Homo sapiens: one gene and its partner. The protein of the gene in region 2 interacts with the protein of the main gene of each other region in a biochemical or structural test. Each region holds a gene or a part of one and is shown on either strand. Other genes may lie near its edges.

Region 1 (7,000 bases), on a different chromosome or scaffold from region 2:
ACAGAAGTTAAAAGGCATAAAGAAGTAAATTTAACATGGAGCCCACAAGTGTCATCAGTAGATGGTTAGTCTTGGGAGAGAAGGAGAGGAGGAGAAGAGATGAAACTGGTCCCTGGACTTTTATGGGATGCAGAACAAGGACCCTGGAAGACAAGAAGGTCCAGAAATGGAAAGAATATGACTATTAGTACTTTCCAGGTCAGAACACACATAGGTGTGCCCTGAACTTCCTTCTTCAACAATAAATGCTGTCAAGAAAAATTACTATGAAATAAGCATACAAATACAAATCAGTGAGTGGTAACACAAATGTAAATATTGTAAGCTATATTTTTATTGGTGAGGTACCACGTTTAACAAGAAACCACAATGCCATATCTATGCTATTTGTATTTATTTATAATAGCTCAAGCTACATCTCTACCAGAAGAGTAAACAGCTCTATCAAAAAAATCTTGTCAAGAGAAAAAATATTTAACTATGCACTTGAAAAATTTGGGTTCTGAGGGGAGGAGCCAAGATGGCCGAATAGGAACAGCTCCGGTCTACAGCTCCCAGCGTGAGCGACGCAGAAGACGGGTGATTTCTGCATTTCCATCTGAGGTACCGGGTTCATCTCACTAGGGAGTGCCAGACAGTGGGCGCAGGCCAGTGTGTGTGCGCACCGTGCGCGAGCCGAAGCAGGGCGAGGCATTGCCTCACCTGGGAAGCGCAAGGGGTCAGGGAGTTCCCTTTCCGAGTCAAAGAAAGGGGTGACGGACGCACCTGGAAAATCGGGTCACTCCCACCGGAATATTGCGCTTTTCAGACCGGCTTAAGAAACGGCGCACCACGAGACTATATCCCACACCTGGCTCAGAGGGTCCTACGCCCACGGAATCGCGCTGATTGCTAGCACAGCAGTCTGAGATCAAACTGCAAGGTGGCAACGAGGCTGGGGGAGGGGGGCCCGCCATTGCCCAGGCTTGATTAGGTAAACAAAGCAGCCGGGAAGCTCGAACTGGGTGGAGCCCACCACAGCTCAAGGAGGCCTGCCTGCCTCTGTAGGCTCCACCTCTGGGGGCAGGGCACAGACAAACAAAAAGACAGCAGTAACCTCTGCAGACTTAAGTGTCCCTGTCTGACAGCTTTGAAGAGAGCAGTGGTTCTCCCAGCACGCAGCTGGAGATCTGAGAACGGGCAGACTGCCTCCTCAAGTGGGTCCCTGACCCCTGACCCCCGAGCAGCCTAACTGGGAGGCACCCCCCATCAGGGGCACACTGACATCTCACATGGCAGGGTATTCCAACAGACCTGCAGCTGAGGGTCCTGTCTGTTAGAAGGAAAACTAACAACCAGAAAGGACATCTACACCGAAAACCCATCTGTACATCACCATCATCAAAGACCAAAAGTAGATAAAACCACAAAGATGGGGAAAAAACAGAACAGAAAAACTGGAAACTCTAAAACGCAGAGCGCCTCTCCTCCTCCAAAGGAACGCAGTTCCTCACCAGCAACAGAACAAAGCTGGATGGAGAATGATTTTGACGAGCTGAGAGAAGAAGGCTTCAGACGATCAAATTACTCTGAGCTACGGGAGGACATTCAAACCAAAGGCAAAGAAGTTGAAAACTTTGAAAAAAATTTAGAAGAATGTATAACTAGAATAACCAATACAGAGAAGTGCTTAAAGGAGCTGATGGAGCTGAAAACCAAGGCTCGAGAACTACGTGAAGAATGCAGAAGCCTCAGGAGCCGATGCGATCAACTGGAAGAAAGGGTATCAGCAATGGAAGATGAAATGAATGAAATGAAGCGAGAAGGGAAGTTTAGAGAAAAAAGAATAAAAAGAAATGAGCAAAGCCTCCAAGAAATATGGGACTATGTGAAAAGACCAAATCTACGTCTGATTGGTGTACCTGAAAGTGATGTGGAGAATGGAACCAAGTTGGAAAACACTCTGCAGGATATTATCCGGGAGAACTTCCCCAATCTAGCAAGGCAGGCCAACGTTCAGATTCAGGAAATACAGAGAACGCCACAAAGATACTCCTCGAGAAGAGCAACTCCAAGACACATAATTGTCAGATTCACCAAAGTTGAAATGAAGGAAAAAATGTTAAGGGCAGCCAGAGAGAAAGGTCGGGTTACCCTCAAAGGAAAGCCCATCAGACTAACAGCGGATCTCTCGGCAGAAACCCTACAGGCCAGAAGAGAGTGGGGGCCAATATTCAACATTCTTAAAGAAAAGAATTTTCAACCCAGAATTTCATATCCAGCCAAACTAAGCTTCATAAGTGAAGGAGAAATAAAATACTTTATAGACAAGCAAATGCTGAGAGATTTTGTCACCACCAGGCCTGCCCTAAAAGAGCTCCTGAAGGAAGCGCTAAACATGGAAAGGAACAACCGGTACCAGCCGCTGCAAAATCATGCCAAAATGTAAAGACCATCGAGACTAGGAAGAAACTGCATCAACTAATGAGCAAAATCACCAGCTAACATCATAATGACAGGATCAAATTCACACATAACAATATTAACTTTAAATATAAATGGACTAAATTCTGCAATTAAAAGACACAGACTGGCAAGTTGGATAAAGAGTCAAGACCCATCAGTGTGCTGTATTCAGGAAACCCATCTCACGTGCAGAGACACACATAGGCTCAAAATAAAAGGATGGAGGAAGATCTACCAAGCCAATGGAAAACAAAAAAAGGCAGGGGTTGCAATCCTAGTCTCTGATAAAACAGACTTTAAACCAACAAAGATCAAAAGAGACAAAGAAGGCCATTACATAATGGTAAAGGGATCAATTCAACAAGAGGAGCTAACTATCCTAAATATTTATGCACCCAATACAGGAGCACCCAGATTCATAAAGCAAGTCCTGAGTGACCTACAAAGAGACTTAGACTCCCACACATTAATAATGGGAGACTTTAACACCCCACTGTCAACATTAGACAGATCAACGAGACAGAAAGTCAACAAGGATACCCAGGAATTGAACTCAGCTCTGCACCAAGCAGACCTAATAGACATCTACAGAACTCTCCACCCCAAATCAACAGAATATACATTTTTTTCAGCACCACACCACACCTATTCCAAAATTGACCACATAGTTGGAAGTAAAGCTCTCCTCAGCAAATGTAAAAGAACAGAAATTATAACAAACTATCTCTCAGACCACAGTGCAATCAAACTAGAACTCAGGATTAAGAATCTCACTCAAAGCCGCTCAACTACATGGAAACTGAACAACCTGCTCCTGAATGACTACTGGGTACATAACGAAATGAAGGCAGAAATAAAGATGTTCTTTGAAACCAACGAGAACAAAGACACCACATACCAGAATCTCTGGGACGCATTCAAAGCAGTGTGTAGAGGGAAATTTATAGCACTAAATGCCTACAAGAGAAAGCAGGAAAGATCCAAAATTGACACCCTAACATCACAATTAAAAGAACTAGAAAAGCAAGAGCAAACACATTCAAAAGCTAGCAGAAGGCAAGAAATAACTAAAATCAGAGCAGAACTGAAGGAAATAGAGACACAAAAAACCCTTCAAAAAATCAATGAATCCAGGAGCTGGTTTTTTGAAAGGATCAACAAAATTGATAGACCGCTAGCAAGACTAATAAAGAAAAAAAGAGAGAAGAATCAAATAGACACAATAAAAAATGATAAAGGGGATATCACCACCGATCCCACAGAAATACAAACTACCATCAGAGAATACTACAAACACCTCTACGCAAATAAATCAGAAAATCTAGAAGAAATGGATACATTCCTCGACACATACACTCTCCCAAGACTAAACCAGGAAGAAGTTGAATCTCTGAATAGACCAATAACAGGCTCTGAAATTGTGGCAATAATCAGTAGTTTACCAACCAAAAAGAGTCCAGGACCAGATGGATTCACAGCCGAATTCTACCAGAGGTACAAGGAGGAACTGGTACCATTCCTTCTGAAACTATTCCAATCAATAGAAAAAGAGGGAATCCTCCCTAACTCATTTTATGAGGCCAGCATCATTCTGATACCAAAGCCGGGCAGAGACACAACCAAAAAAGAGAATTTTAGACCAATATCCTTGATGAACATTGATGCAAAAATCCTCAATAAAATACTGGCAAACCGAATCCAGCAGCACATCAAAAAGCTTATCCACCATGATCAAGTGGGCTTCATCCCTGGGATGCAAGGCTGGTTCAATATACGCAAATCAATAAATGTAATCCAGCATATAAACAGAGCCAAAGACAAAAACCACATGATTATCTCAATAGATGCAGAAAAAGCCTTTGACAAAATTCAACAACCTTCATGCTAAAAACTCTCAATAAATTAGGTATTGATGGGACGTATTTCAAAATAATAAGAGCTATCTATGACAAACCCACAGCCAATATCATACTGAATGGGCAAAAACTGGAAGCATTCCCTTTGAAAACTGGCAAAAGACAGGGATGCCCTCTCTCACCGCTCCTATTCAACATAGTGTTGGAAGTTCTGGCCAGGGCAATCAGGCAGGAGAAGGAAATAAAGGGTATTCAATTAGGAAAAGAGGAAGTCAAATTGTCCCTGTTTGCAAACGACATGATTGTTTATCTAGAAAACCCCATCGTCTCAGCCCAAAATCTCCTTAAGCTGATAAGCAACTTCAGCAAAGTCTCAGGATACAAAATCAATGTACAAAAATCACAAGCATTCTTATACACCAACAACAGACAAACAGAGAGCCAAATCATGAGTGAACTCCCATTCACAATTGCTTCAAAGAGAATAAAATACCTAGGAATCCAACTTACAAGGGATGTGAAGGACCTCTTCAAGGAGAACTACAAACCACTGCTCAAGGAAATAAAAGAGGACACAAACAAATGGAAGAACATTCCATGCTCATGGGTAGCAAGAATCAATATCGTGAAAATGGCCATACTGCCCAAGGTAATTTACAGATTCAATGCCATCCCCATCAAGCTACCAATGACTTTCTTCACAGAATTGGAAAAAACTACTTTAAAGTTCATATGGAACCAAAAAAGAGCCCGCATCGCCAAGTCAATCCTAAGCCAAAAGAACAAAGCTGGAGGCATCACACTACCTGACTTCAAACTATACTACAAGGCTACAGTAACCAAAACAGCATGGTACTGGTACCAAAACAGAGATATAGATCAATGGAACAGAACAGAGCCCTCAGAAATAATGCCGCATATCTACAACTATCTGATCTTTGACAAACCTGAGAAAAACAAGCAATGGGGAAAGGATTCCCTATTTAATAAATGGTGCTGGGAAAACTGGCTAGCCATATGTAGAAAGCTGAAACTGGATCCCTTCCTTACACCTTATACAAAAATCAATTCAAGATGGATTAAAGATTTAAACGTTAGACCTAAAACCATAAAAACCCTAGAAGAAAATCTAGGCATTACCATTCAGGACATAGGCGTGGGCAAGGACTTCATGTCCAAAACACCAAAAGCAATGGCAACAAAAGCCAAAATTGACAAATGGGATCTAATTAAACTCAAGAGCTTCTGCACAGCAAAAGAAACTACCATCAGAGTGAACAGGCAACCTACAACATGGGAGAAAATTTTCGCAACCTACTCATCTGACAAAGGGCTAATATCCAGAATCTACAATGAACTCAAACAAATTTACAAGAAAAAAACAAAGAACCCCATCAAAAAGTGGGCGAAGGACATGAACAGACACTTCTCAAAAGAAGACATTTATGCAGCCAAAAAACACATGAAGAAATGCTCACCATCACTGGCCATCAGAGAAATGCAAATCAAAACCACTATGAGATATCATCTCACACCAGTTAGAATGGCAATCATTAAAAAGTCAGGAAACAACAGGTGCTGGAGAGGATGTGGAGAAATAGGAACACTTTTACACTGTTGGTGGGACTGTAAACTAGTTCAACCATTGTGGAAGTCAGTGTGGCGATTCCTCAGGGATCTAGAACTAGAAATACCATTTGACCCAGCCATCCCATTACTGGGTATATACCCAAAGGACTATAAATCATGCTGCTATAAAGACACATGCACACGTATGTTTATTGCGGCACTATTCACAATAGCAAAGACTTGGAACCAACCCAAATGTCCAACAATGATAGACTGGATTAAGAAAATGTGGCACATATACACCATGGAATACTATGCAGCCATAAAAAATGATGAGTTCATGTCCTTTGTAGGGACATGGATGAAATTGGAAATCATCATTCTCAGTAAACTATCGCAAGAACAAAAAACCAAACACCGCATATTCTCACTCATAGGTGGGAATTGAACAATGAGATCACATGGACACAGGAAGGGGAATAACACACTCTGGAGACTGTGGTGGGGTCGGGGGAGGGGGGAGGGATAGCATTGGGAGATATACCTAATGCTAGATGACACTTTAGTGGGTGCAGCGCACCAGCATGGCACATGTATACATATGTAACTAACCTGCACAATGTGCACATGTACCCTAAAACTTAGAGTATAATAGAAAAAAAAAAATTAAAAAAAAAAAAGAAAATCTATAACCTTAAAAAAAAAAAAAAAGAAAAATATCCCATTTTAATAAAGGATAATGCATATTAGAAAAAAAAAAAAAAAGAAAAATTTGGGTTCTAGTCTCAAACGCTGAAACTTAGAATTAATTAAATTTTTTTGTTAACTTATATTCTTCTCATTTTAGCATATTTCTTCCTCTTTCCTGTTGGTCTCCATGTGCTGCCAAAATGATGCATAATCCCCAGGGTTTACGAGTCTTCATTCTCTGTAAAGTAGGGGTTTTTTCCCAGAGATAGGGAAGGTATCAGGAAAAAAGGAACAGTTAACCGGGTTATAGCTAATTTTACCTCGCTTATCTTTCAGAAAACTATCTCAGTTTGCCATGGTCCTGGATCCCTTCTCTGTAAAAGGTCCACTTTATCATCTTTGTCTTACTCTGAAATGCTTAACTTACTTAAGAATTTCAG
Region 2 (7,104 bases):
GAGGCGGAGGTTGCAGTAAGCCGAGATCACATCACTGCATTCCAGCCTGGGTGACAGGGTAAGATCCTGCAACACACACACACAAACAATAATAATAATTTAAAAAACCAGCCAGGCATAGTGGCTCACACCTGTAATCCCAGCACCTTGGGAGGCCAAGGAGGGCAAATTGTTTGAGGTCAGGAATTCAAGGCCATCCTGGGCAACAGGTAAAATCTCTGTCCCTACAAAATAAAAACAAACAAAAAAGCTAGGCGCAGTGGCTTATGCCTGTAATTCCAGCACTTCAGGAGGCCAAGGTATATGGATCACCTGAGGTCGGGAGTTCGAGACCAGCCTGGCCAACATGATAAAACCCCATCTCTACCAATAATACAAAAATTAGCCAGGTGTAGTGGCGCATGCCTATAATCCCAGCTACTCGGGAGGCTGAGGCATGAGAATCATTTGAACGCAAGAGGCAGAGGTTGCACTGAGCCGATATCCTGCCACTGCACCCCACCCTAGGCAACAGAGTGAAACAAAAATTTTGCTGGGCATAGTGGCGCATGCCTGTGGTCCCAGCTACTCAGGAGGCTGAGATAGGAGGATCACTTGGGCCTGAGAACTCGAGGTTGCAATGAGCCATGATGGCACCACTGCACTCCCGCCTGGGTGACAGAGCTAGAACCTGTCTCAAAAAAATAAGGCGAGGCGCAGTGGCTCATGCTGTAATCCCAAAACTTTGGGAGGCCAAGACAGGCAGATCACCTAAGGTCAGGAGTTCAAGACGAGCCTGGCCAACATGGTGAAACCCCATCTCTACTAAAAAAAAATACAAAAATTTGCCAGGTGTAGTGGTGCATGCCTGTAATCCCAGCTACTCAGGAGGCTGAGGCAGGAGAATCACTGGAACCTGGGAAGTGGAGGTTACAGTGAGCCGAGATTATGCCACTGCTTTCCAGACTGGGTGACAGAGTGAGACTCTGTCTCAAAATAAATAAATAACCAAGGATTTAACATTTATGTAGATTTCACACCACGTAAGTACAGAACCACATACATTAAAAACAAAGAAAAGAAAATAGACCTCCTATTTTAGCAAGCCAAAATCAAGGTTACAAAAAGATATCCTGAAGGGCAAGTACTGTCCGTGACTGTATTCCATAAAACAAGCCTGTTAGGGGGCCGGACGCAGCAGCTCACGCCTGTAATTCCAGCACTTTGGGAGGCTGTTGGGCGGATCACAAGGTCAGGAGATCGACACCATCCTGGCCAACATGGTGAAACCCCGTCTCTACTAAAAATACAAAAATTAGCTGGGCATCACAGTGTGCGCCTGTAGTACCAACTACATGGGAGGCTAAGGCAGGAGAATCGCTTGAACCCGGGAGGCAGAGGTTGCAGTGAGCTGAGATCGTGCCACTGCACTCCAGCCTGGTGACAGAGCGAGACTCCATCTAATTAAAAAAAAAAAAACAGGCCTGTTAGGAACCAGACTGCACAACAGGAGCTGTGTGAGCATTAGCACCTGAGCCCCACCTGTTAGATCAGGTGCAGCATTAGGTTCTTATAGAAGCACAAACCCTACTGGGAACTGCATATAGCAAGAGATGTAGGTTGTATGCTCTTTATGAGAATCTAACAAATGCATAATGATCTGAGGTGGAACAATTTTTTTTTTTTTAGACGGAGTCTCACTTTGTCCCCCAGGCTGAAGTACAGTGGTGCTATCTCAGCTCACTGCAAGCTCTGCCTCCCGGGTTTCATGCCATTCTCTTGCCTCGGCCTCCGGAGTAGCTGTGACTACAGGCGCCCTCCACCGCGCCCAGCTAATTTTTTTGTATTTTTAGTAGAGGGGGGTTTCACCATGTTAGCCAGGATGGTCTCGATCTCCTGACCTCGTGATCTGCCCGCCTCGGCCTCCCAAAGTGCTGGGATTACAGGCGTGAGCCACCGTGCCCGGCCGGTGGAACAGTTTCATCTCAAAATCATCCCCTGCCCCTATGGAAAAACCATCTTCCACAAAACCGGTCCCTAGTGTTAAAAAGGTTGAGGACCATTGCCTTAAAATACACAGCATGATCTTGTGTATATATTACGTTTCTATTTATTTCAAGGGAGGGGCCCCAGAACTTAAAATTTAAAAATAAAAATAAAGGGAGGGGGCTCGGTGCAGTGGCTCACACCTGTAATCTCAGCACTTTGGGAAGCTGAGGCAGGAGGATCACTTGAGCCCAGGAGTTTGAGACCAATCTGGGCAACATGGCAGGACCCTGTCTCTACAAAAAATTTAAATGTTAGCCAGCTGGTGTACACCTGTAGTTCCAGCTACTCAGGAGGCTAAGACAGGAGAAATGCTTGGCCCCATAGATTGAGGCTGCACTCCAGCCTGGGTGACAGAGGGAGACCTTGACTCTAAAAAAATAAATAAAGGGAGAGGTGTAATAAAATCCTACAAATATTGCTTTGGGCAAGTCCCCTAATCTCTCAAAGCTTAGAGTTTTTGCCTTCCATTTTTAAGATTTAGGATTTTTTGTTGTTGTTGTTGTTGTTACTGTTTTTTAAGAGACAGGGTAGGCTGCGCACGGTGGCTCATGCCTATAATCCCAGCACTTTGGGAGGCCAAGGCAGGTGGATCGCTTAAGGTCAGGAGTTCGAGATGAGCCTAACCAACATGGTGAAACCCTGTCTCTGCTAAAAATACAAAAATTAGCTGAGTGGGGTAGCAGGCACCTGTAATCTCAGCTACTCAGAAGGCTGAGGCAGGAGAATCGCTTGAACCCGGGAAACAGAGGTTGCAGTGAGCTGAGATTGCACCACTGCACTCCAGCCTGGGAAAGAGCAAAACTGTCTCAAAAAAAAAAAAAACACCTTAGCTCATGAGGCTGGGCGGGGGTGGCTCACGCCTGTAATCCCAGCACTTTGGGAGGCCGAGGCAAGCGAATCACCTGAGGTCAGGAGTTCAAGAGCAGCCTGGCCAACATGGTGAAACTCCATATCTACTAAAAATGCAAAACTTAGCCAGGCATGGTGGCGGGTGCCTGTAATCCCAGCTATTCGGGAGGGCTAAGGCAGGAGAATTGCTTGAACCTGGGAGGCGGAGGTTGCAGTGAGCCAAGATCACGCCACTGCACTCCAGCCTGGGCGACAGAGACTCTGTCTCAAAAACAAACAAAAAAACCCTTAGATGGTAACAGTAACATCATAGATGACCCAGATATCCTTTGGAAAAAAACAAAAAAAACACAAGTACTTTCATTTAAAAAGATACGGCAGCGGCCAAGCACGGTGGCTCATGCCTGTAATCCCAGAACTTTGGGAGGCTGAGGCAGGTGGATCACCTGAGGTCAGGAGTTTGAGACCATTCTAGCCAACATGGTGAAACCCTGTCTCTACTAAAAATACAAAAATTAGCCAGGCGTGGTGGTGTGCGCATGTAGACCCAGCTACTCAGGAGGCTGAGGCAGGAGAATCACTTGAACCCGGGAGGCAAAGGTTGCAGTAAGCAGAGATCGTGCCACTGCACTCCAGCCTGGGCGACAGAGCAAGACTCCGTCTCAAAAAAAAAAAAAAAAAAAAAAGATAATAGGTGTGACTGTTAATAAACTGTTTACATCTCCGTTGAAGTTGTCACAATCACTTGAAATAGCTAAAAAAAAAAATAGGGTTTTGTTCATGCTCAACTATTTACACAACATCAAAATACTATCACTAGTCAAAACAGAAAATTGTAATTCTAGAGAACAATCTTCTAAAACCTTAAAATTCGTTTCAAAGTAAAAAAACAATACTTTGCTAAGGTGACAGTTCTAACACGGCTGTAGCTATTTAGGACAAAAAAATGAGATCCTCCTTTTTTTGTTTGTTTGTTTGTTTTGAGACAGAGTCTCGCTCTGTTGCCCAGGCTGGAGTGTAATGGCATGATCTCAGCTCACTGCAACCTCCGCACTCATTGCAACCTCCGGGATCAAGCAATTCTCTTCCCTCAGCCTCCCAAGAAGCTGGGATTACAGGCGCCCACCACCATGCCCGGCTAATTTTTGTATTTTTAGTAGAGATGGGGGTTTCACCATGTTGGCCAGACTAGTCTCAAACTCCTGACCCCAGGTGATCCACCCGCCTCAGCCTCCTAAAGTGCTGGGATTACAGGTATGAGCCACCGCGCCTGGCCTTGAGATCCTCCTTTAAGTCAAAATATATGGCTATTAAATAGCTACAATATGAGTTAACATCCCTTATGTAGAAGTATAAACCATTGCTAATTAGAGTAACACTGAAAATACAAGTTTACATTTAACCAAAAAAAGGAACACCATGACTGATCCCATGTTTTCACTGTTTCAGAATGTGGAATCTTTAAGCAACTACAGGCTTACATTTTTCTCTTAAAAAAAAAAAAAGAAAAAGAAAAAGAAAACCAAAGCAAGTTTTGGCCCAAACTTAAAAAGTTTATTTTCTCCACATACTTGAAACAAAAACTAAACTAATTAGGTAAAATACGTAAGCCCAAAAGAAAAACAAAACATGTCTCTTTGGTTAGTAATAGCCATCTACAATTTACCTCTAATGACCCTCAATGTCAATTAACTTTTTTGGTCTAACTTCAGAGATGGTTAGTATCAATGTGCACATAAAAGAATAACAAAGGATGATGCCATTTAAACCTTATAAATTACTAATGAAGCCACATGACTAATTAACCTAGATAAAAAGCAAACGGCTAAATACCCAACCTTCAAATCTTTGCTCAAATGTTAGCTCCTCAATTAAGTTCCCCCAATCCATTTAAAATTGTAACTCATTCCCCTCCCCACACTCCCTATACCTTTAATCTGCTTTCTTCTAATTCCATAGCTCTTATACACTATTATACATAGGCTGGTAATTTAATGTCTCATTGTCTGCCTAGTCACATTAGAATGTAAACTCCAAAAGGACAATATGTTTGCTTTATTCACTGATTCATCCCAAAAACCCCATGTACATAGATGCTTCAATAAAGCTGTATTCAACGTAGATATTTTAGGCCCTTCTACAAGATATTTAACTGCAAAAGATGAACAGTCTCACTGAAATTTAAATGGAAGCATGATGAACAACTACATTAAATCACAGCACATTTTTTTTTTTTTTGAGATAGAGTCTCACTCTGTCTCCCAGGCTGGAGTGCAGTGGCACAATCTCAGCTGACTGCAACCTCCGCCTCCTGGGCTCAAGTGATGCTCCTGCCTCAGCCTCCCAAGTAGCTGGGATTACAGGCGCCTGGCTAAACAGCACAATTTTTAAGTTGCAATGCCTCAAGAGAAAGAAGCAGTAAAAATACTAAGCTGAAAATCACTAAAAGAAAAATATTTTATTCAGACTGAATCCTGTATCCCAAGCAATTCTAATGTCATATTATTTAGGTTTAGGAATAGAGTAACAATTGTAAATCCATATTTTTATTTTTAATGGGGAAGGGAATGTAGAAGAAGAAGAGTCAACCAGCGAAAATTCCCAATAGTGCCATGAAATTACAAAAAAGTTACCAAAAATAACTTGGTCATAGGCTAGCAGCTAATAAAAAACACTTTCAGATGAAAAAGAAAGGTTAACAACAACAACAAAGCTTTAGAACAGTTCCTCAGGAATTTCATTCCTGCACTTTACTCAGTACTATCAGCACGACAGATAAACCAAGTACCCTCATTAATAATAATGGTTACAGGTTTCAAAACATCTTCACATATATTACCTTATTAAATCCTCAGAGGAACCAAATTAAACTCAAATATCAATAATCCAGTAACTAACAAAAGCACTTAATAATATATGCACTTGACAGTAAAAATGCAATTTTTCCTTTAAAAATTCCCCACAATATTTGACAAACTACAAAGAAACCATTCCATGGAAGAGCAACCTTCTTGACACTGGAAGTAATACAAGTCTTCTAAAGAATAATAGAGCACCGCTAGCAAGAGCCATAAAAATCCTGAAGCCCTCTGAACTAGTAAAACCACTCTTGGTAACTTTCTCTAAGGAAATAATTACACTGAAGCAAAAAGCTATTTAAAAATGTTCACTGCACCACTATCTATAACAAAAAAGTGGAAACCCAATTCCCAACAATAGAATGGTTAAGTAAAAACCTTACAGCCGGGCGCAGTGGCTCACGCCTGCAATCCCAGCACTTTGGGAGGCCGAGGCGGGCGCATCACCTGAGGTCGGTAGTACGAGACCAAACTGGCCAACATGGTGAAACCTTGTCTCTACCAAAAATACAAAAATTAGCCAAGCGTGGTGGAACATTCCTGTAGCCCCAGCTACTCAAGAGGCTGAGGTGGGAGAATCGCTTGAACCCAGGAGTCAGAGGCTGCAGTGAGCTGAGATCGTACCACTGCACTTCAGACTGGGCAAACACCGAGACTCTGTCTCAAAAAAAAAAAAAAAAATTTACATTTACAATACAACGTTCAGGGGAAAAAAGCTAACTACAAAATAACATACACAATCACCTCTACTACATAAAAATGAAAAGGTAAAAAGCAAAAATAAGAATTAGACTGATGGTTGGGGGCAGTGGCTCATTCCTGCCTGTAATCCTGGCACTTTGGGAGGCCGAGGCTGGCGAATCACTTGAGGTCAGGAGGAGTTCGAGACCAGCCTGGCCAACATGGTGAAACCCCATCTCTACTAAAAATACAAAAATTGGCCAGGGGCAGTAGCTCACGCCTGTAATCCCAGCACTTTGGGAGGCCAAGGCAGGCGGATCACTTGAGGTCAGGAGTTCGAGACCAGCCTGGCCAACATGGCAAAATCCCGTCCTCACTAAAAATACAAAAAAATTAGCCAGGTGTGGTAGCACGAACCTGTAATCCCAGCTACTGGGGAGGCTGAGGCTGGAGAATCACTTAAATGAACCCAGGAGACAGAGACTGCAGTAAGCTGAGATCAGGCCACTGCACTCCAGCCTGGGCGACAGAGTGAGATTCCATCCAAAACACACACACACACACACACACACACACACACACACACACAAAATTAGATTACAGTAAAATTATGTTCTAATATTGTGATTACATTATCTTTCCTAAAACAGCCACCTTCAAAAATATATATAACAAAGAACAAAATAAA

Evidence for each region. The genes of interacting proteins can lie anywhere in the genome.
Region 1: the proteins of ATXN2 (region 2) and SH3GL3 form a complex in vitro, tested with the Homo sapiens proteins (one study listed by BioGRID).

The regions. Positions count from the first base shown.
Region 1 is NC_000015.10:83,450,341-83,457,340, reverse strand, and holds part of SH3GL3 (endophilin-A3), read right to left. Parts: intron 1-7,000. UniProt on the Homo sapiens protein: Implicated in endocytosis. May recruit other proteins to membranes with high curvature.
Region 2 is NC_000012.12:111,589,242-111,596,345, forward strand, and holds part of ATXN2 (ataxin-2), read right to left. Parts: intron 1-7,104. UniProt on the Homo sapiens protein: Involved in EGFR trafficking, acting as negative regulator of endocytic EGFR internalization at the plasma membrane.